Homo sapiens: one gene and its partner. The protein of the gene in region 1 interacts with the protein of each later gene in a pairwise test. Each region holds a gene or a part of one and is shown on either strand. Other genes may lie near its edges. The genes, in order: PROSER3 and ZNF396.

Region 1 (10,546 bases):
GGAACTCGCTGCCGTCGGAGTCTGGGCCGGGGAGAAAAGAATGAGCTCCAAGGGGCCGGCCTCTTAGGGGGCTGGCCTGCCTCCAACATCCAGGAGGGCGCGGGCATCACCTTCTGCAGCCTGCAGCAGCAGGGCGGCCTGGGCAAGCAGGGCCTCCGAGGGGGCGTGGTCAGCAGCGGGCGGGGGCGGGGCCAGGGCCTCCGGAGACCCCACCTGGAAGGCTGGCGGCGAGGCCTTGACTGTGGTTGCCTGCTCAGCTGGAGAGAGTGGGACCTCGGGCTGCAGGCAGGCTCCAGGGGAAGGAGTGGCTTCGCTCTTCCGTATCACTGACCCCGCTGCGGGCGGCAAGGCCTTGGCTTTCAGAGACTCGGCCTTGGCCCGACACTGGGATTCAGATGGAGGGGGAGTGACCTTGGTTTGGGGTTGTGTGGCCTGGACTTTCGGAGATCCAGCCTTGGGTGGAGGGGGGCCCTCGAAGTGAGGAGGCGTGTCCTCCAGGCTGTCAGGGAACAGCCGAGCTGCCACTACCTGGCCCAGGACACCCCTGAGCTGAGGGCCAGGTCCCTGGCCAGCTGCAGGGACTTGCTCGGCAGCCTCTGGGCGAGGGGCTCTGCTCCTCCGAGACTTGGGCCCCAGGCTCTTAGGCTGGGCACAGCTGCTTGGGTCAGGGATGGGCAGGCCCTGGGGGACAGCTGGGGATGCGAGGGTGGAGGCTGGAGGTGCAGGGGTACAGGCCAGGGGAGCCGGGGTGGAGGCTGGGGGTGCAAGGGTGGAGGCCAGGGGAGCTGGGGTGGAGGCCGGGGGTTCGAGGGTGGAGGCCAGGGAAGCCGGGGGCGCGAGGGTAGAGCCCAGATGTGCTAGGGTGGAGGCCTGCTGCGTGGGAGGAACAGCCCCAAGGGATACCCAAGGCCCAGACTGTGGGGCCCAGAAGAACCCGTGGGAGCTGGGGGCCCAAAAGATGTGTGGAGAGGACACTGAGGGAAAAGGAGGCCTCTCCACATAGAAGGCCTCTGGTGGACCAGGCTGGGCCACACTGCTCCACAGTGGGACATGGTTAGGCTGGGTCCCCAGAGAACTGAGGGTCTCCACTGGAGCAGGAGAGGTCTGTAGACAGATAAGAGAGATCTGAGACAGAGAGAGAGAGGGTGGAGGGTCCTCAGTCCCCCTCAGACCCAGCCCCTCCTCCAGCTCCCCCCAGGCTCCTCCCTCCCTCGGCTCACCAACGTGCGGAGGGCAGGGGTCAGAGGCGGCACCCAAGCTCTGTCACCCTTGCTTCCCTGAGCCTGTTCAAGCTTCCGCCGCTGCCGCCACTGGTACAGAATGTCATCCTCTGGCCGAAGGGGTGCTTGGGAGGAGGCTGGGGCTGGAGCAGGGGTGGGGGTCTGGGCCTGGGCTGGTGCCGGGGATGCTGTAGGGGGAGGTAGAGAGGAGAGGGTGAGGCAGGGGCCAGGGAGATCAGCAACCCCAGGACAGCCTGCACACACGCCCTCCAACTGTGCAGGGGGTTACTCAGACAGGCTCTCCAGATACTGTCCCAGCTCCTCTCTGGGGTGGGAAGAGGGGAAGGGGTCAAAGTCAGGGGAGCGAGCACTCCTGGTCTTCTCCATCTGTCATCATTCAAGTCTTTGTTCATTATATATATATAGTCTTGTTCTGTCACCCAGGCTGGAGGGCAGTGGTGCGATCACTGCAGTCTCGACCTCCTGGGCTCAGGCGATCCTCCTGCCTTAACCTCCTGAGTAGCTGGGACAAAAGGCGTGTGCCACCACACGGGGGTAATTTTTATTTTTTTGTAGAGACAGGGTCTTGCTTTGTTGCCCAAGCTGGTCTCAAACTCCTGGGCTCAAGCCATCATCATCCCACCTGGGCCTCCCAAAGTGCTGGGATTATAGGCGTGAGTCACAGTGCCTGGTTTCATTCAACAAATATTTATTGAGCCGTTCTGGACACTGGAGTTACAGCAGTGACCAGAAGACATATTCCCCAGAATCTACCCACTCCCCCACCCGCTACAGCCCTCACCCTGCTCCAGCCCCACTCACCCAACCTGGACTCTTAAATAGCCTCCCTGGTCTCTCTACTCTCCTCCAAATCTGTTCCCTACTCTCAGCCAGAGGGAGCCTGTGAATACCTGAGTCAGACCAGGCCTCTCGTACTTAAGAACCCTCCCTTGGCTGCACCTCTCTCCCGGTAAAAGGCGAAGGCTTTGCCTTTTACACCTGTCGTTCCCTCTGCCTGGAATGCTCTTCCTTCATGTATCGCACGGTGCATTCTCTCACATCCATCAGATCTTGGTCACCTTCCCTGGCTTCCCTATTCAAAACTGCAACAACCAGCTGGGCATAACGAATGGCCCATTCTTATAACCCTAGTGCTTTGGGAAGCGAAGGCGGTGGGGGGATCGCTTGAGCCCAGGAGTTTGAGATCAGCCTGAGCAACATAGTGAGACCCTCATCTCAACAAATAAAAAAATAAAAACAATTAGCTGGGCATAGTGGTGCATGCCTGTAGTCCCAGCTACTCAGGAGGCTGAGGTTATAGGATTGCTTGAGCCCAGCAATTGGACTATGATGGCACCATTTATTTATTTATTTTTGAGATGGAGTCTCTCTCTGTCGCCCAAGCTGGAGTGCAATGGCGCAATCTCGGCTCACTGCAACCTCCGCCTCCCAGGTTCAAGTGATTCTCCTGCCTCAGCCTACTGAGTAGCTAAGACTACAGGCATGCACCACTATGCACCATTATGTACCACGCGTGGCTAATTTTTGTATTTTTAGTAGATACCGGGTTTCGCCACATTGGCCAGGCTGGTCTCAAACTCCTGAGCTCAGGCAATCTGCCCGCCTCGGCCTCCATGCCTGACCCACCTCATCTGGCCTTATCCCTGTTTTACAGCTGGAGAAACAAGGCCCAGAGAGGCCCAAAGTCCCATAGCTGGTCAGTGGCAGAGTTGGGATTTGCACCCAGGCTGCCCTCAGTCTTTGCCTCTCAGCCCTTACCGGGTGCCCTGGGGCCAAGGCCCTTGCTGGAGTCAGGGATGAAGGTCTCCGAGAAGGGAGAGAGGCCATCAGAGCTGGTGGGGAATGAGGAAGTGCTGGCATCGCTGGGGCTGAGGGAGGAGGAGGAGGAGATGGAGGCTTTGCTGCAGGGAGAAGGCAGGAGTGAGGCAATGGAGGTCTCGAGACCTGGGCCACGTGGAGCCGCAGTAGGAAGGGTGATGGGGGCAGGGGTGCGGGCACCTGCGTTTGAGCAGCCTGGCAGCTCTGCTCTGTAGGCTCAGCGTCTCCAGGTCCAGCAGGGATGAGTTCCATGTGTGGAGGTTCTGCAGGGTGACAGGGTCAGACGCCAGCCCCAACCCAAAGGCTGCTGGGAAGGGGGTTCTAAACAGAGGGCCTGGAATGCAGGTTGTACTGCCCTTGGTAACCTCACATGCCAGCTTAGGATCTGCTCCTCCTCCTCAGGGAGGAGAGACCCAGTTTTCCCCTTTGGATTAGCACCTTTTTTTTTTTCTTTTTTTTTTTGAGATTGAATTTCACTTGTTGCCCAGGCTGGAGTGCAATGGCACGATCTCGGCTCACAGCAACCTCCATCTCCTGGGTTCAAGCAATTCTCCTGCCTCAGCCTCCCAAGTACCTGGGATTACAGGCATGCGCCACCACGCTCGGCTAATTTTGTATTTTTAGTAGAGACAGGGCTTCTCCATGTTGGTCAGGCTGGTCTCAAACTCGCGACCTCAGGTGATCCGCCCACCTCAGTCTCCTAAAGTGCTGGGATTACAGGCGTGAGCCACCGCGCCCGGTGGATTAGCACCTTTCATGGACAAATCATGGTTGGAGGAGGATGGATCCCACCTCCCAGATCAGAGCTGCTTCATCAGAGCATTCTATCCTCTGGTTCACAGTGGTTGGCTCAAGGATGAGTGAATCACAGTGAGCCCTGGGGCTTCTGATGGAGCAATTCGAAAAGCCCCCACTTCCCACTGGAGTCACTGAGCCAGGACCATGGGAGCCTAGAGACCCCAAGGACCATCCTGGCTATTGTGAGGGGAAAGCCCGCCTGGGACTGAGCCCAAAAAAAGAGAAGCACAGAGGCGGGCGTGGTGGCTCACGCCTGCAATCCCAGCACTTTAGGAGGCCGAGGCAGGAAGATTGCTTGAGCCCAGGACTTCGAGACCAGCCTCGACAACAAAGTAAGATCCCATCTCTACAAAAAAACCAAAAAATTAGCTGGGCATGGTGGCGCATGCTGTAGTCCCAGGTACTCAGGAGGCGAAGGTTGCAAAGAGTTCAAGGCTGCAGTGAGCCATGATTGTGCCACTGCACTCCAGCCTAAGAGTAAGACCCTATCTAATTAAAAAAAAAAAAAAAGAAGGCCGGGCGCGGTGGCTCATGCCTGTAATCCTAGCACTTTGGGAGGCCGAGGTGGGTGGATCACAAGGTCAGGAGATGGAGACCATCCTGGCTAACATGGTGAAACCCCATCTCTACTAAAAATACAAAAAAAAATTAGCCGGGCGTGGTGGCAGGCACCTGTAGTCCCAGCTACTCGGGAGGCTGAGGCAGGAGAATGGCGTGAACCTGGGAGGCGGGGTTTGCAGTGAGCCGAGATCGCGCCACTGCACTCCAGCCTGGATGACAGCACAAGACTCCGTCTCAAAAAAAAAAAAAAAAGGCCGGGCTTGGTGGTTCACGCCTATAATCCTAGCACTTTGGGAGGCTGAGGTGGGCGGATTGCCGGAGGTCAGGAGTTCGAGACAAGCCTGGGCAACACGGTGAAATCCCATCTCTACTAAAAAAATACAAAAAAATTAGCTGGGTGTGGTGGCATGCACCTGTAGTCCCAGCTACTCAGGAGGCTGAGGCAGAAGAATTGCTTGACCCCGAGAGGCGGAGGTTGCAGTGAGCTGAGATGGCGCCACTGTACCCCAGCCTGGGTGACAGAGCAAGACTCTGTATCAAAAAAAAAAGGGGGGGCATGGAGCCCAGAGAGAGTTGGGTCTCTCCCAACATTATTCAAACACCTGGATCCAGGCATATCTGGAAACATCTACTTTTGGATTTCTCAATTACATTAGCCAGCAAATCCTCCTTTTCTGTTTTAGCTTCCTTGAAATGGGGATCAGCTCTAATTCTTTTTTTTTTTTTTTTGAGATGGAGTCTTGCTGTCGCCAGGCTGGAGTGCGCTGGCGCTATCTTGGCTCACTGCAACCTCCGTCTCCCGGGTTCAAGCAATTCTCCTGCCTCAGGCTCCTGAGTAGCTGGGATTACAGGTGTGTACCACCACGCCCGGCTAATTTTTGTATTTTTAGTAGAGACGGGGTTTCACCATGTTGGTCAGGCTGGTCCTGAACTCCTGACCTCGTGATCTGCCTGCCTCAGCCTACCAAAGTGCTGGGATTATAGGCATGAGCCACGGTGCCCAGGCTTTTTTTTTTTTTTTTTTTTTAAATAGAGACAGGGTCTTGCTCTACTGCCCAGGCTGGAGTGCAGTGGCATGATCATAGCTCACAGCAGCCTTGAACTCCTAGGCTCAAGCCATCCTCCAGCCTCAGGCTCTCAAGTAGCTGGGATTACAGGTACATACCACCACACCTGGTTCTCTCTCTCTCTCTCTTTTTTTTTTTTTTTTTAGTAGAGGCAGAATCTCACCATGTCACCCAAGCTGGTCTTGAACTCCTGGCCTCAAGCAGTCCTCTCACCTTGGCCTCCCAAAGTGCTGGGATTACAGGTGTGAGCCACTGCTCCTGATCTTCTAATTCTGTCCTAGGGCTGGTGTTGTCAGTTCAGGCACCCAAGGGAGGGAGTGAATGGGGATGTCACCTGCTTTATTTCCTGAAGGGGAGCCACAGCATGGGATGCACTGGTCACGTTGACCGCAGTAGGGACAGCTGTATGGGGTCTTCCTTCTGGTTTGTTGGCTCCTGCTGAGAAGCCCCAGTTGAGGTATGAGGGCCAGGAGGAGTGGCTGCTGGGGGCATTGATCAGCAAAGGTTTAGGGGTGGGAGTAGTGGATGGCACTGAAAGAGGTACCTGCTGCACTTTGACTGCTGGGGTCTGGAGAGTCAGACTGCAGCCACCAAAAGTCAGCTGGGGTTGGGCCTGCAGGCTGGCGCTCCTCTCGACTGGTGGGCTGAGCCTGGCGGAACCTGTTTATATACCTGTGAACATCAGGGGATAGGAGGTGAGTGGAGTGAGGAGAGCCAAATAATAATAAGAATAATTATAGCAGCCAACGTTTACCAAGCACCATGGCAGAGCCTGGTAGCTATCCCTCAATATCTGCTTTTCTTTCTTATATAGTCACATAACTGTTTTTGAGACAGGGTCTCGCTCTGTCACCCAGGCTGGAGGGCAGTGGTGCAATCATAGCTCACTGCAGCCCCCAACTCCTGGGCTCAAGAAATCCTCTCTCCTCAGCCTCCTGGGTAGCTGGGACACAGGTGCATGCCACCACACTCGGCTACTTTTTGTATTTTTATTTATTTATTTATTTGTAATTAATTAGTTTATTTTTTGAGACGGAGTTTTGCTCTTGTTGCCCAGGTTAGAGTGCAATGGCGTGATCTTGGCTCACTGCAACCTCTGCCTCCTGGTTCAAGTGATTCTTCTGCCTCAGCCTCCCAAGTCACTGGGATTACAGGCATGCACCACCACGCCCGGCTAATTTGGTAGAGACGGAGTTTCACCATGTTGGTCAGGCTGGTCTCAAACTCCTGATCTCAGGTGATCCACCCACTTTGGCCTCCCAAAGTGCTGGAATTACAGGCGTGAGCCACTGCAGCCCTGCCAATTTTTGTATTTTTAGTAGAAACGGGGTCTTGCCATGTTGCCCAGGCTGGTCAGGAACTCCTGGGCTTAAGGGATCCTGCCACTTTGGCTTCCCAAAGTGCTGGGATTACAGGAATGAGTCACTGTGCCCAGCCAGGAATGTAACTTTTAGCTGGGCACACAGCCAGTCTCCTATGGACTATATTTACCAGGTACCCTTGTAGCCTTGTGACCACGTGACTAAGTTCTTGACAAACAGGGTATGAAATGTGATTTTGGAAAGCTGATGTGGTTGAAAGCCATTTTGCACCATGAAGGAAAGGGCAACGGCCTAGAGTTCGGACAGCAACAAGACAGAAGTAACCTGTGTCCCTGACACCTCAACTACGGGTTGCCACATCATCCCTGGTGGCTTCTGCCTGGACTGCAGGTGAGGGAGGAATAAATTCTATCTTGTTTCAGCCATAATTAATTTGGGACTCTTTGTTACAGCAGCTGAACCTGTATTCTACAAATCTAAGTGGTGACTATGTGAGAAGCACTGCTAGAGATCATTATATATAGTAACTCACTGAAAGCTCAAAACAGCCCTAGGGGATGTGTACTATTAATATGCCCAATTTAGGCCTGGCAGTGGCTCACACCTGTAATCCCAGAACTTTGGGAGGCTGAGGCAGGTGGATCACCTGAGGTCAGGAGTTTGAGACCAGCCTGGCCAACATGGTGAAACCCCATCTCTACTAAAAATACACAAAATTAACCAGGTGTGGTGGTGGGCACCTGTAATCCCAGCTACTTGGGAGGCTGAGGCAGGAGAATCACTTGAACCCAGAAGGGAGAGGTTGCAGTAAGCCGAGATCATGCCACTGCATTCCAACTTGGGCAACAAGAGTGAAACTCCATCAAAAAAACAAAAACAAAAACAAAACAAAACAAAACACCCAATTTAGAGATAAATAAACTGAGGCTGGGCATGGTACGTCTGGCCTGTAATCACAGCACTTTTTGGAGGCCAAGGTGGGAGGTTTGCTGGGTGTGGTGGCATGCATCGTAATCCCAGCAACTCAGGAGGCTGAGGTGGGAGGACGGCTTGAGCCCAGGAGTTTGAGGTTATAGTGAGCTGTGATTGTACCACTGACCTCCAGCCTGAGTAACAGAGCGAGACCCTGTCTCTAAACAAATAAATAAATAAATAAAAAGAGATAAAGAAACTGAGGCCAAGATCATACAGAGAGTTAAATGACAGAGCTGGGATTTGAACTCAGGCAGTCTAGCACCAGAGTTCTTAACACACATAAACTGCCTGGTCCTAAAAGAGTGCTGCAGAAACAGCTCTGGCCATGATGATTATTACTGCATGCCTTCTCCCTCCCTCTAACCCAAAGCCTCTTTTTCCCCCAGGGCTGCTGGTACTTACTTGGCCACCACGGAGTCCCCGCTGTCAATCAGGGTGGGTGCTGGGGAGGCCCACATCTGTCCCTCAGTGGTGCTGGGCAGGGAGGGGGTCCCTGAACTGGATGGCCAGGACTCCTCAAACAGCTCAGGGGAGTTGGGACCTGTGGCTAGAGCCTTGGGAGCTTGTGGGAGCCTGGATCTCTGAGACCTGGATGGGCTCAGGGTCTAAGATCAGGGAAGAGCACAAGAAGAAAAAGTGTGAGGTCTCATGGGTCATCCCTGCAGGGGAACCAGGACACACACAAAGTCTCAGTCCAGAGGGGAGGAAACACATCCTGTAATGATAACAACCTAGTGTGATGGGGGCTCAGATGGGGAATCCAGGTGGTAGAGAGGGGGACAAGGGCAGGGCCGTGGGGAGGGGACAAGGGGCTGTCTCTTAAATCTCTCATCCCTATCTCTCATCACATGTCTTCCTACCCTCTAAAGGTCATTCTCTTGCTACTGGGCTGGCACTCAGCACTCTTTGAGGGGTGTCCTCACCTTGGGACACCAGGTCTGGCTCTGGGATGGCCAGTAGTGGCTTCGACCCAGGGGCGCATCTCCAAAGGGACTATCTTGAATGGAGAAAACTGGCAGGCTGCAAGAGGAAAGTGGGGTTCAGGCAGCACGTGGTTTCGCCGCAGCCCTGGGGAGGGGGACATTAGAGGAGGGCAGAACCAGACAATTCCCATAGATTCCTGGAGGAGACGGACTGTCATTTCCATGAAGCACCGTTGCACATTCAGGATATCGACAGTGGAAGGGTGAGTCCTGGGAGCCCGCCCCTGGAGCAGTCTTAACAGGGAGCAACTCAGGAACTGACAGCCGGTGGTTCTCAACCCTGGATCCAGTCTAGGAGGGGCTTTTCAACGTTACAGGCGCGCGGTTCCCATTCCAGACCAACAGAATCAGAATATCTATTAGTGGGGCTGGGCCTCCGTGTCTTTTCCGCAGCGTCCCAGGTGATTGCGAAGTGGAGTTCAGGTTAAGAATCGCGGCTCGCCGGGCGTGGTGGCTCACGCCTGTAATCCCAGCACTTTGGGATTACACCGAGGCGGGTGGATCACTTGAGGTCAGGTGTTCGAGACCAGCCTTACTAACATGGCGAAACCCCGTCTCTACTAAAAATATAAAAAATTAGCCAGGCGCGGTGGCAGGTGCCTGTAGTCCCAGCTACCTGGGAGGCTGAGGCATGAGAATTGCTTTAACCCGGGGGCAGAGGTTGCAGTAGCCAAGATTGTGCCACTGCACTCCAGTCTGGGCCAACAGAGCGAGAGACTCTGTCTTAAAAAAAAAGAAAGAAAGAAAGAACCGCGGCTGGATTATATCACCGAGCATTTCCCATACATTCCTGGGGGACACGAAGGCAAAGGGTAGATGGACTACAAGCCCCAGGATCCACTGGGCTCCGCCTCCGCGAGAAAGTTCAAAGACAACGCCCAGGCGTGTCTGGGGGCCATTTCAAAATGAAGAAATTCAGATCTCAAGCCTTTCTTGGACACCTTTAGAGGCAATAATTCCTTGGGGCCCACTCAGAGAGGAACATAAGACTCTTAGGGGACCCCCGGGATGCTAACGGCTACGGCTGGAGAGGCCAACGGCTGTGGAGCATGTTGGGAATTGTAGTTCCAGTGCGGTGGAGCCCTAGCGACTCCAGACCGTATCCAGCCCGTCCTAGGCTGTGCTGCTCTCGCCGTTGGTCCTCCCCAGCCTCCTGTAGTCCCTGGAAGAGCGATCGGCCTCACCTGCGGTCCATCCCGCGGCTCCCTCCGCGCTTCCGGCCGCTCTGCTCCTTCACCCAACAGGCCCCGCGCGCATCTCCGTCGCTTAGCAACGCCCTATCAGCCCCGCCCCTCTCTGTGCCCGCGCCGGAGGCGAGCGGCCTCCAAGGCGACCAATGAAAGAGAGGAAACAGAAGTACCCGGAGGGAGGTGTTTCAGGATTGGCTGGGACGACTGCCTGCCCGACAGGGCGTGTTTGATTGGAGAACCTGCCGAGTGTAGCAGTAATTGGCAAGACCGTGCACCAATGGGAAGGATCTGAGGCTGGGCTTGCGGTTAGGAGGTGATCTAAAGTACCCTCGCTTAAAAGTCCCGCTTTTTAAGCGCCTTCTTGCTGCAGAAGTCCTGTCCCGACCCCGGTCTAACTACCATTCTTTCTGTTGCAGGGGCAGTGGGGCGGGTTGGGGGGGGGGCGCGCTCTGCCCTCTCTCTAACCGCTATTCCTCCATCAGTTGGGCCAATCAGTCCGTCCCAACGGTCATCTAACTTCTTTCTTGCTGCAGGAGCAGCTGGTTGCATCAGTTGCCAGGTCTGGGCTCCTGGCCGAGGTAGCGGGATCAA
Region 2 (10,546 bases), on another chromosome or scaffold:
TGCAGCCATACTTGTAATTTAATACTTTAAAAATATTTTATTTCATGAGATAAATGTAATGGTAAGGATAAGAACAGACTGATATGCAATTAACATAAGAGTGTGGTGGTGCTCTCCAACCTACTCTTTGGGTGTTAGGGAAGAAGTGGTACCTAAACTAAAACATGAAGAACACACAGGAATTAGGTAACATGTGAAAGCTAGATAGGAGTTCAAAAGGAGTACATGGAAAGGTCCAAAGGCTAGAGGACTTCTGATATTTCAAAATGGCTGAAGCATAGAGGCAATGGCAAGAGCTGAAGCTGAAGTGGTAAGCTGTGGTCAGATCACAAAGAGCCTTAACAATCTTGTTTAGCAGTTCTGACTTTATCCTAAAACAAGGGAAAGCCTATGTCTTAGACAGGGAAAGGGCATGATAAAATGTATGCCTTAGCAAGATTACTCTGGTTGAGAGATGAATGCATATGAAGAGGGGAAAGTTAAGGGCCACATAATTCCCCTCACTCAGGGACTAGCCACCATCTTGAATTTTGCCAGTGTAAGCTGGAAAAATATAGGGTAGGAGGCAGGGTCACAACAGCATATTTAAGTGTTGAAGGGATGGATGCAGAAGGAAGGCAGAGAGTGAAGAAATAGAAGAGAGGAAGAATGACTGGCAGCCAAGGCCTTTCAGAGGTGAGAATGCTGAGGCTCAGAGGGGAGAGACCCCTCTCTCATTCTCAGACGGGGGAGAGGCCCCTCTCTCATTCTCAGAAGAGGGAGAGGAAATGATGGGTAAAGTGTAAATAATTTGGCAAATTTAGTCATAGGAACTTGTAAGAGTTCTTATCTTTTTTTCCTTTAATGCAGGAAGCAAAAGATAGTTGTCTGCCCGTAAGGAGGAAGGTGGCAAAGGATTAGTATGGCAAACACGGTTGGCTAACCCAATGTCGTCCTCAACCCCCATCTGGCCTGCTTTCCCTCTAGAGGTTGAAAACGCTTGCCCTACCAGACACAGTTGCAACAGGGAAACATAAGCCAGATTTTGCTAAGGTTTTTGGAAAGCTTTTTGCTTAGCATGGCTGTCTTTCTCCTTTCTTCCTGACTTAATCCTAGTTCCTAGAGCTGTGACAGCTCTCTCGAAAATCGGACAAAATAGCATGAGGTAAAGTTAGACCAGTCGTCATTCCAGCTGCAGATTGAGAGCCAGCAACCCACCTTCCAGATTTCAGGTTGAAAATTCCTATTTGTTTAAACCACCAAAGATGGATTTTGCATCCAGAAGCATTCCTAACACAAAGGCTTGCTGTTTTAAGCCACTGTTGTAAGGACAGTGATGAACATTTGACTTGGTCTCTGAAGAGAATGGGAGTGGTAAACAAAAACAAACAAAAACAAACAAACCATATAGGATTATTGGTAATCTTGAAGGCCCAGATGAAGTGAAAGCCAGAAAACAATACCAATTTCATTTTGGAGTATTTACTATCCCTGAAAATTAATATAATGGGGGTGCTAATGCTAATTTTTAAAACCAAGGTTAGCTCAATGAATTCTCCTTTTATATAAACTAGTACCATTCACTCATTAGGATACCTACATAACTGCAAAATAATTCAAAGTACACAGAGACACCCTTTAAAGATTCATCATATACTTAGACGATATGATTCATACCACTTTCCTGTGGAAACACTCAAATTATTCACAATAAATAGAATGCAATCTTACAAAGTTGATGGCAGCACCAAGTGAAGATGGGTGCTTCCTTCAAAATACTTGATTTAGATTCTGCCATCTTATTCACATAGAACCTAAGAAACTCTTTCCGTAATTAAGCAGTAATTCACAATATATACATCTCTGAGGCACTTGTTGTTTCAATAGATGGTTTGTTCCTCTCCGTAATTACAAAGACAATGAGCCCCAAATAAAAAGTATCCTACATTTTTAGTGACTCAAGATACACACAACTCAATATAAAATTCATATTCACTAGAGCTACAAATCATAATCACTATCAGAAAATTCTATAATAAAATTTACATTCACTTCTCCTCCTACTAATCTTACATTTATCAGCATACTAACTAAGCAGAGTGTGGTAATTCCACATATTTGGAGCTCCTCTAAGCCAGTTTCTGGAGATACTCTAAGATATGGTTGGATTTTCTGAGAATGAAATGTTTTATACTTTATGAGGAACCCAACCAGACAAAGAAGTTTACTATGAGTCTCTTCCCTTATTCCAAGGACTTTGATTTCTGATGTTTGCCTCCATATTGTGTAACTGTAGCACCATGGAAAACACAATACATGTATTATTGTAGTAACATTACAGAGTTTTATCAAGAATCTCTGGAAAATAGATAATTTTGTTGTTTGTATACTGTCAGAATAATTTTAATAATGTACGATTCAGTAATTTTAAACAGGGAATCTGGCTGAATTAAATGCAGGTAAAACATAGTTACTCATATCCCATAGATAAGCCAAATAAGATATCCCATAAATGTCTTAAAACTTATAAACTATAATGGTTAGGTTCAACAATTGTTTATAAGGGACTGCAGTGGACCCTTTAAATTGAACTTCAGTGATTTGTCCATATGTACAAGAGCATCAAAATCCAGGGTCTCATTTCATGACAGCGTGTCTAGAAACTCATCTTACTAAGAATACAGAAGACTCTGAAAAGGTTGTCTTGTGATGCTTGAAACATATTCATAGTTGATTTATGCCAGAAAAGGGGACACTGAAAGTATTGTCATCAGCAGTTACGGGCTTCCTCTTCCAGTTAAGCTGTGGTACATCTCTCCGACACACACTGTACTTGACAACACTTGTGGTACATCAGTCTTGTTTGACAATTTTGTTCATCTCCCTTTTTTCTTTATATTAAGATGATCATCCATCTTACAGAAGCACCCATAGATTAATATTGTTATGAAAACATTCCTTATGTTTAGCTGACTCCTTGTAGACAAGCAGTCATTTTCATGTTTCCATTGACTTATTTCCAAATTACATTGCAAAGGAGATTATTTTTTTCCAACACGGGAAATTAACTTGATATTAATAGTATGGAGGCTCTTGTGTGCTTTCATAAGATAAGGCCTTTATTTATCTGCCTCCTGAAAGTGACCTGGGGCACTTCAGCCTAGTCTTGAAGTACATATTCTTTTGGGCCTCTGCAATCGCATGTTCATATTTTGAATCTAGTAACAGAAGACAAAATAGGAATTTATTTTTATTTTTATTTATTTATTTATTTATTTATTTATTTATTTTAAAGACGGAGTCTTGCTCTGTCTGAGCGGTTCAAGCAATTTTCCTGCCTCAGCCTCCCTAGTAGCTGGGATTACAGGTACACGTTGCCATGCCTGGCTAATTTTTTGAATTTTAGTAGAGACGGGGTTTCGCCGTGTTGTCCAGGCTGGTCTTGAACTCCTGAGTTCAGGCAATCTGCCTGCCTCGGCCTCCCAAAGTGCTAGGATTACAGGCATGAGCCAACCGCACCCAGCCAGGAATTCTTTTTGAGTGCTTTAATTTTTGGTCTTTAGAATTCTAGTGCTCAAGTTATGAAATGGAGGAGAATGTCTATTTTTACACTGAGTAACTCACACATTCCTTCTCAATGAGGGAAAAAACATACTTGTCTAAAAAGATATATACTAATTCATTATATGTGTTAATAATGAAAATAGTAGAACATGTCTGAGAATGCCTTTTCAAGGCCTGCATAGGGATGGAAATCTGAATTAAGCTTTGGAATTGCAAACGTCAGAATTGAGACTGCATTGATAAGCAGAAAAGCAAATAATGCTGACCTGAGATCTTCAACCTTCTCTCCTGTGGCTTTCATGAGTCTTGAAAGGAGACTGGTGCTTACTAAGACCACTGATTTGTACTAAGGAGCGTTTGCATCTGGTGTCTTCCCTTGTGCTGAAATAGCTCTGAGTAAATGCTTTGATTCCCTCATGATACTTATGGGACTTTTTTTCTAATGTGTCTTTTCCTATGTCTAAAAAGATTTGAGCTCTGACTAAAGGCTTTGCCACAGTCATGACACTTGTAGGGCTTCTCACCAGTATGGGTTCGTCGATGCTGAATCAGAATTGCGCTTCGGCTGAATGCCTTTGCACACTCGTCACATGCATAAGGTTTCTTTCCACTGTGGATTCTCTGATGTAAAATAAGGGCTGAGCTCTGACTAAAGATTTTGCCACATTCATCACATTTCTGTTGTTTTTTCCAAGAAGGGTTTCCTTGTCTCTTTTCAAACCTACCATCTTGTTCATAGGTTCCTCTATATGTGGAACTCTGGGAGCCATTCATATGAAGGATATTGGAAACATTGCAATGCAGTTCTATGCCTAAAGAAGTCTTTTGCCTTGAAGCAGATTTCACATTTGTAGTTTTGATGTCTTCATCTGAAATGGAAAAACAAATGTCACCAGGAAAGAGAAAGGATGATCCAAATGAAATATACATGATTATTGCTAGCATGTTTATAAAACAACACACAATGTGAAGGACGGAGAGTGTAAGACAAAATATTGAGAAGTTTATATAAGACATAGAGAAAGGTTTACATACTGAGGAGGCAGTCAACTAAACTGTAAAGTTGCAAAGTTCTATGGAAAAGACAGAATAGGGAATAAGGATAAAAAGATATGTCAGAGACTAAGGAAAGTCTGGAAGGAAAGAAAGGGCTTAGAAAGAAGAAATGATTGGAGACACAGAGAGCTAGAAGGAGAGGAATCCAATGTGCCAGTGGGAGTAACAAACAAGATTTAGTACTGGAGTATCAATAAATAAATAAAGCTTAATATTCATAAAGGAATCAGTAACTATGCAAAGAAATGAGCTGAAGAAAGCCAAGGGGCCAAAAAGGAATGTGGAAAATAAAGTAAGAAAATATAAGTTAGGCCAATAAAGGGAAGATTATAGACTAGGATAACTAGTACCTCAAAAGATCAAGGGTAGCAGAGTACCCACTGATGAAAAACCTCTACTCCTGTATGGATTTTATATTACTGGTTGAATCGCTGTTTGTTGTATTATTTTGTATTACATTTAACATCCATGAAAAACGTACATGGCTGCTTATGGGCTGCGGCCACTCAGGCGGCACACAAACCTGGCTTGATGCAGAGGGCCTTATGACTCAGGGTGCCTAAAGCTCCAGCAGAACTGCTAACTCAGATGTGAAAATGCCAGTGTAATGTGGTTGCATTACCTGAAGAAATCACTTCAGTTATCCTCATGGTGGCATTTTTTTTTTTTTTTTTTTTTTTTTTGAGACGGAGTCTCGCTCTGTCGCCCAGGCTGGAGTGCAGTGGCGGGATCTCGGCTCACTGCAAGCTCCGCCTCCCGGGTTCACGCCATTCTCCTGCCTCAGTCTCCCAAGTAGCTGGGACTACAGGCGCCCGCCACTACGCCCGGCTAATTTTTTGTATTTTTTAGTAGAGACGGGGTTTCACCGTTTTAGCCGGGATGGTCTCGATCTCCTGACCTCGTGATCCGCCCGCCTCGGCCTCCCAAAGTGCTGGGATTACAGGCGTGAGCCACCGCGCCCGGCCCATGGTGGCATTTTAACTGAAGCTGCTGAAAGACAGGAGCTTAAAATGAGTTTATAAAAGCAAAGTACAACAGTTTTGGACATGTCTGGGGAGATGACTTGGCTGGGGCTGACTGTGACTACTGGGGGTGCCTTTATCTGAAGTAATTATATAAATAAGATTAAAAGCAACCCAGAGAGGTACTGATGATAAGTGATTCCCTGGGCCCTCTCAAGGCCTAATGAAAAGGTTAGGGTGAGAAAGGTAGTCTGGGGAGAAGAATTAGTGATGCAATGTGATACTGAATAAGAAAACTGAGTTGTTGTTTTACTCTTTAGAATTTACTTAAAATGGATCTACCTGCTGTCTCTACAATCTCCTTAGAATCACCCAACATAAGCTCAAATCTTAACATAAGCCCTTCCCAATTCCTTCTTAATGACACACCCCATAGTTTCTGTGCCGTGTTCTCTTTCTTGCTGCAGCAAACTAAATAAACCTAACTTGAAAAAATATATAAAAATCAAATCAAATGGGTCTAAATAGTTATTACAAAAGGAATTTAAAATTATTTATTGTATTTATTCACAAATATGGTGTCTCAGTCCATTTTCTGTTGTTTAGAATAGAATACCTGAACTTGAGTAATTTATTTATAAAAAGAATTTATTTCTTATAGTTATGGAGGTTGAGAAGTCCAGGGTGGAGGGGTGCATCTGGTGAGAGCCTTCTTGCTGGTGGAGACCCTCTGAAGAGTCCTGAGGCAGTGGAGGGCATTTCATGGTGAGGGGGCTGAGCATGCTAATATGCTAACTCAGCCCTTTCTTCCTCTTCTTATAAAGTTACCAGTTCTCCTATGATCACCAATTAACCCATTAATCCATGAATGAGTTAATCCATTTATGAGGGCAGGGGTGATAATTCAATTACCTCTCAAAGGCCTCACTTCTCAATACTGCCACACTTGGGATTAAGTTTCAACACAAGTTTTGGAGGAGACAAATATTCAAACCATAGCATATGGCATACTCATTTATTATTACTAGTTTAAGTGGAAATCATTTTATAAATGGTAAGGATTCTGTCTCAAATTCATTTTTGATAGTTTATATTCCAAAGTGACCTCAATGATTAGTCATTACTATCAAAATCCTGGCATCAATTAGTACTTTACAGTACTGAGACCAAGATCATCTCCCAGAAGCTTTCATAAGACATGACTCAGTACCACAGAAATCATGTTGTGGCCTTAAGAAATGGTTCTATTATTCTATCAAGTGATTCTGGTTCTCTCTGCCTTGTACTGCAAGATCCTGGACCTGTTGCATTCTGTTTCAAATTTCTACGAATCTTAAAAAAAAATGTAGGAAAGGCCTCCATGAGGACATTCACAGGTAGGATGTGGTTCTTGCCACACCTGGCTTTGAGGTTGATCACTTCTGTAGTCACCACCACACCAAGCTGCTGAGGCTGGGATGGTCTCCCTCCCTTTCCTGACGGAAAATACTTTTTCGTGAAAAGACTTTCACTTTTCTAAGTATACCAAGACAATTTCTAGACTGGAGGTATTACGTGTCCCAGTATAAGCCTTCAGAGAGCCAGTACTTGCCAAGTTAGGGTGAACAATGTTTTCTAAATCTCTTTCTAAATTACTGTATTTCCTTTGTGTAGTTTCTTATAAAAATTCCCTTGGAAAAACTCTAACCTTGCTTAGCTATCAGCCACTCCTGAACTATGGAAGCAGTGCTGGAGAGAAGGAAGGAGATGCTCCCAAGTAGGATTTCCCTCTTAATCTCTGGCTCCTATTTTATCCAGGATGATCATCTAGAAGGAGGGTCTCTGCTCAAATGTCGCTTCATCAGAGAGGCCTTTCTACCACTCTATATAATAAGATCCTATCCCCACCATTCTGTTTAAAGTAGCATGGCCCTTTTATCAAATGAAATTTTACATTGAGTTCCAATATATAAAACAGACGAAAACACAGCTACTCTGTCTGAAGCAGGAGCAGTCACAGCCTACAAGGCCTCTAACTCAGCCTTATTTCTACTTCTCACCTTCCCTCTAGCCCCCTTATTCTGTTTTGTTTTTATTTTTTCCCCATAGCACTTATTTGTTTAGTATCTGCAATGGAAGAATAGATTGCTACACAGCTATTCTGGAGCACTTATAGAAAGCAATGCAAAGAGCAGTTGAGGCCAGTTGAAGATGTGAGGGAGTAGAGAAGTGTATTCAAAGCACGTATGAGAGCAAAGTCACCTTAGCAGCAATATAGGCGATTCTGCTACGAGATCCCACCAGTAACTGAGCAGTTATATAGGAAATGATGATGAGGATCAGTGGTCTCTGGGCTGTGTACCTTGGGGTCCCACAGAAAGGCCTCAAGGGCTGCCTGAAGATAAAAGGGCTACTTTAAAAAGGCATGAAAACCCTGATGCAGATGTCAGGGATTTAAAGTCTGAAGATTTTATAAGAATCTCTGAAAAAGAAGCAAGAACAAAATACTGAAGATCTTCATTTAGTAGGACAAATAACAGAAGTTCCCACAGTAAGGAGGAGATGAGAGGGGGAGATTTGAGGCCTCTTGCATAAATCAGCTGAGATGTGTGTGGTGAGCAGAGGGCCCCCACACCTTCCAACATGAACTGAATCCTGCCCCCTCACCATGTGGTCTTAAGGACTGAAGCTCCCATGATGCTCCCTGGAGCTGCTTCTTCACGGGCATGAGCTGGCTACTTGGCAATTCCTCAGTGATTTCTGAAGGTGCTAGCTTCTCTGCAATCATGTCCTTCCTTCGTCCAAAAAAGATCTAAAAACAGGAATAATTGAGGCTGAAGAACACCATCAGGTTGGGACTTGAGGATAAAATAACAGAGAAGAAACTATGCAAAAAGTATCATGGACACAGGAAAAGGGAGGGAAAAAGTAGAGCCACCTTCTATTTGCTGGGACACCCATTAGTACTTTCACCCCTATACATCCAGTTGTGCTGAGTGGGAATACAGTTTGAGAGCTCTACTCCCAATGATGTGCCAGTGCTCTTGACTCAGCCTGGGGGTTCATCTCCACAGGCATCCTTCTTACCTGCTTTGGTCCATCAAGCTCTCTCTCCACATCCTCCAGCATAGTCACAGTTTCCTCTCCATTCTCTGGATGATGCTTCTGCACCCAGGCCTGAAGCTCTTTTGGGAGGATGGCCAGGAACTGCTCCAGCACCAGCAGCTCCAGGATCTGCTCCTTGGTGTGCACTTCCGGCCTCAGCCAGAGATGACAAAGTTCCCAGAGCCGGCTCAGAGCCTCATGGGGCCCAGGTGAATCCTGGTAGCCAAACTGCCTGAATTGCTGGCGGAAGGTCTCTGGGCTGTAGCTGCTGCTCCAGTGGAGGCTAGAGTCTGGATCACAGGTCTGCTCTTCCTCTTCCATCTTCTCTGTCAGAATCCCATTACACTCCTCTGAAGTTTGTGTTAGGAGTGATGATGACTTTCCCAATTTTGCAGACATTTTGACAGACAAATAGCTCAGTACTGTTAGGCTTTAATCCTCAAGGAGGTGAAGCTGTCCTGATGGACACTCCTTAAATATGATTAAAGAAACAAGTGGAAAGAAGACAAAAGACAAATGCTTCTTAGAACAAAACAACTAAGATTAGAAACATAAGACTGTATAGGAACTACTGACCTTAGTCTTAACAGAAACCATGCTTTTATTTATTTATTTATTTTTGAGATGGAGTCTTGCTCTGTTGCCCAGGCTGGAGTGCAATGGTGTGATCTCGGCTCACTGCAACCTCTGCCTCCTGGGTTCAAGTGATTCTCATGCTTCAGCGTCCTAAGTAGCTGGGACTACAGGTACCCGCCACCACGCCTGGCTAATTTTTGTATTTTCAGTAGAGACAGGGTTTCACCACGTTGGCCAGGCTAGTCTCGAACTCCTGACCTCAGGTGATCCACCCGCCTTGGCCTCCTGAGGTGCTGGGATTACAGGCTTGAGCCACCACGCCAGGCCCAGAAACCATGCTTTTGAAGAATACTTCTTTAAGAGAACCAAACAGCTAAGACTCATTAATTCATATGCATAAGTGATTCACAATTCATTCTGAAAACCATGCCCACAAGGCTACTGAATATTACAATAAGAGATCAGCCAGGATTGCATAGAAGCTCCCAGATAATGGAAATAAGGGAAGCCTGAGAAATGCTCTAACTCTGGAGCCAGTTCAAAGAGCCAATCGGTATTTAGTGTGCTGCAAAGAGCTCAAAGAAATAGTCTCATGAGGGAAGCACTTTTGTGTGACTTTTTTCAGCTTTTACTGTTAAAACATTACTTCGACATTAAAGGAACCATTAAAAAAAAAATAAACCAATCAGCTGGGCACTGTGCTTATGCCTGAAATCCCAGCACTTTGGGAAGCCGAGGTGGGAGATGGGAGGATCACCTGAGCCCAGGAGTTTGGGACCAGCCTGTGCAACATAATGGGACCCCATCTCTACCCCACCAAAAAAAAAAAAAAAAGAAAAAACAACAAAAAAGGCAATCACGTTCCTTCATCTGAATGTATTTCTATTTTTTTCCATATCCATATTACTTACTTAACTATTTTAAAATACTTAGGTTGTTTCTAATTTCACTATTATAATTAATGCTGGGAGGCACATCTTTATGAATATACTGTTTTTCTCCTTTCAAAGTATTTCTTTCAAGCATGTCCCAAGGCCTCTGCTTGTTGAGGATCAAAGGAGAAGAGCAAATTCTGTCTTGCTATGTATTATCAAAATATTGCACAAAGACTGTATCAATTCACAATACCATCACAATCATAGTGACTTGTGAGGGCAACGATTTCTTCAAGTATTATTAGCTCGTTAGCAACAAAGTTGGGGGGGGACGGCACTTTCCTTTGTATCATTTTACTGTTAAGTATCACCAGTAACTAATCTCATTTTGTTGTTGTTGTTGTTTTGTTTTGTTTGAGACAGAGTCTGGCCCTGTTGCCCAGGCTGGAG

The links.
Region 2: the proteins of PROSER3 (region 1) and ZNF396 interact in binary tests that used the Homo sapiens proteins (3 or more experiments, as listed by UniProt).

Annotation. Positions count from the first base shown.
Region 1 is NC_000019.10:35,757,630-35,768,175, reverse strand, and holds the start of PROSER3 (proline and serine-rich protein 3), read right to left. Parts: upstream 10,001-10,546; 5' UTR 9,961-10,000; coding exon 9,950-9,960; intron 8,851-9,949; exon of another isoform or gene 8,803-8,850; coding exon 8,706-8,802; intron 8,388-8,705; coding exon 8,185-8,387; intron 6,158-8,184; coding exon 6,030-6,157; intron 5,924-6,029; coding exon 5,820-5,923; intron 3,323-5,819; coding exon 3,240-3,322; intron 3,143-3,239; coding exon 3,000-3,142; coding exon of another isoform or gene 2,989-2,999; exon of another isoform or gene 1,913-2,988; intron 1,409-1,912; coding exon 1,221-1,408; coding exon of another isoform or gene 1,167-1,220; intron 1,126-1,166; coding exon of another isoform or gene 1,105-1,125; coding exon 111-1,104; intron 22-110; coding exon 1-21.
Region 2 is NC_000018.10:35,365,249-35,375,794, forward strand, and holds the end of ZNF396 (zinc finger protein 396), read right to left. Parts: intron 9,117-10,546; 5' UTR 9,045-9,116; coding exon 8,628-9,044; intron 8,353-8,627; coding exon 8,208-8,352; coding exon of another isoform or gene 8,137-8,207; exon of another isoform or gene 8,046-8,136; intron 4,413-8,045; coding exon 3,967-4,412; 3' UTR 3,198-3,966; coding exon of another isoform or gene 3,103-3,197; 3' UTR 1,446-3,102; downstream 1-1,445. UniProt on the Homo sapiens protein: Isoform 1 and isoform 2 act as DNA-dependent transcriptional repressors.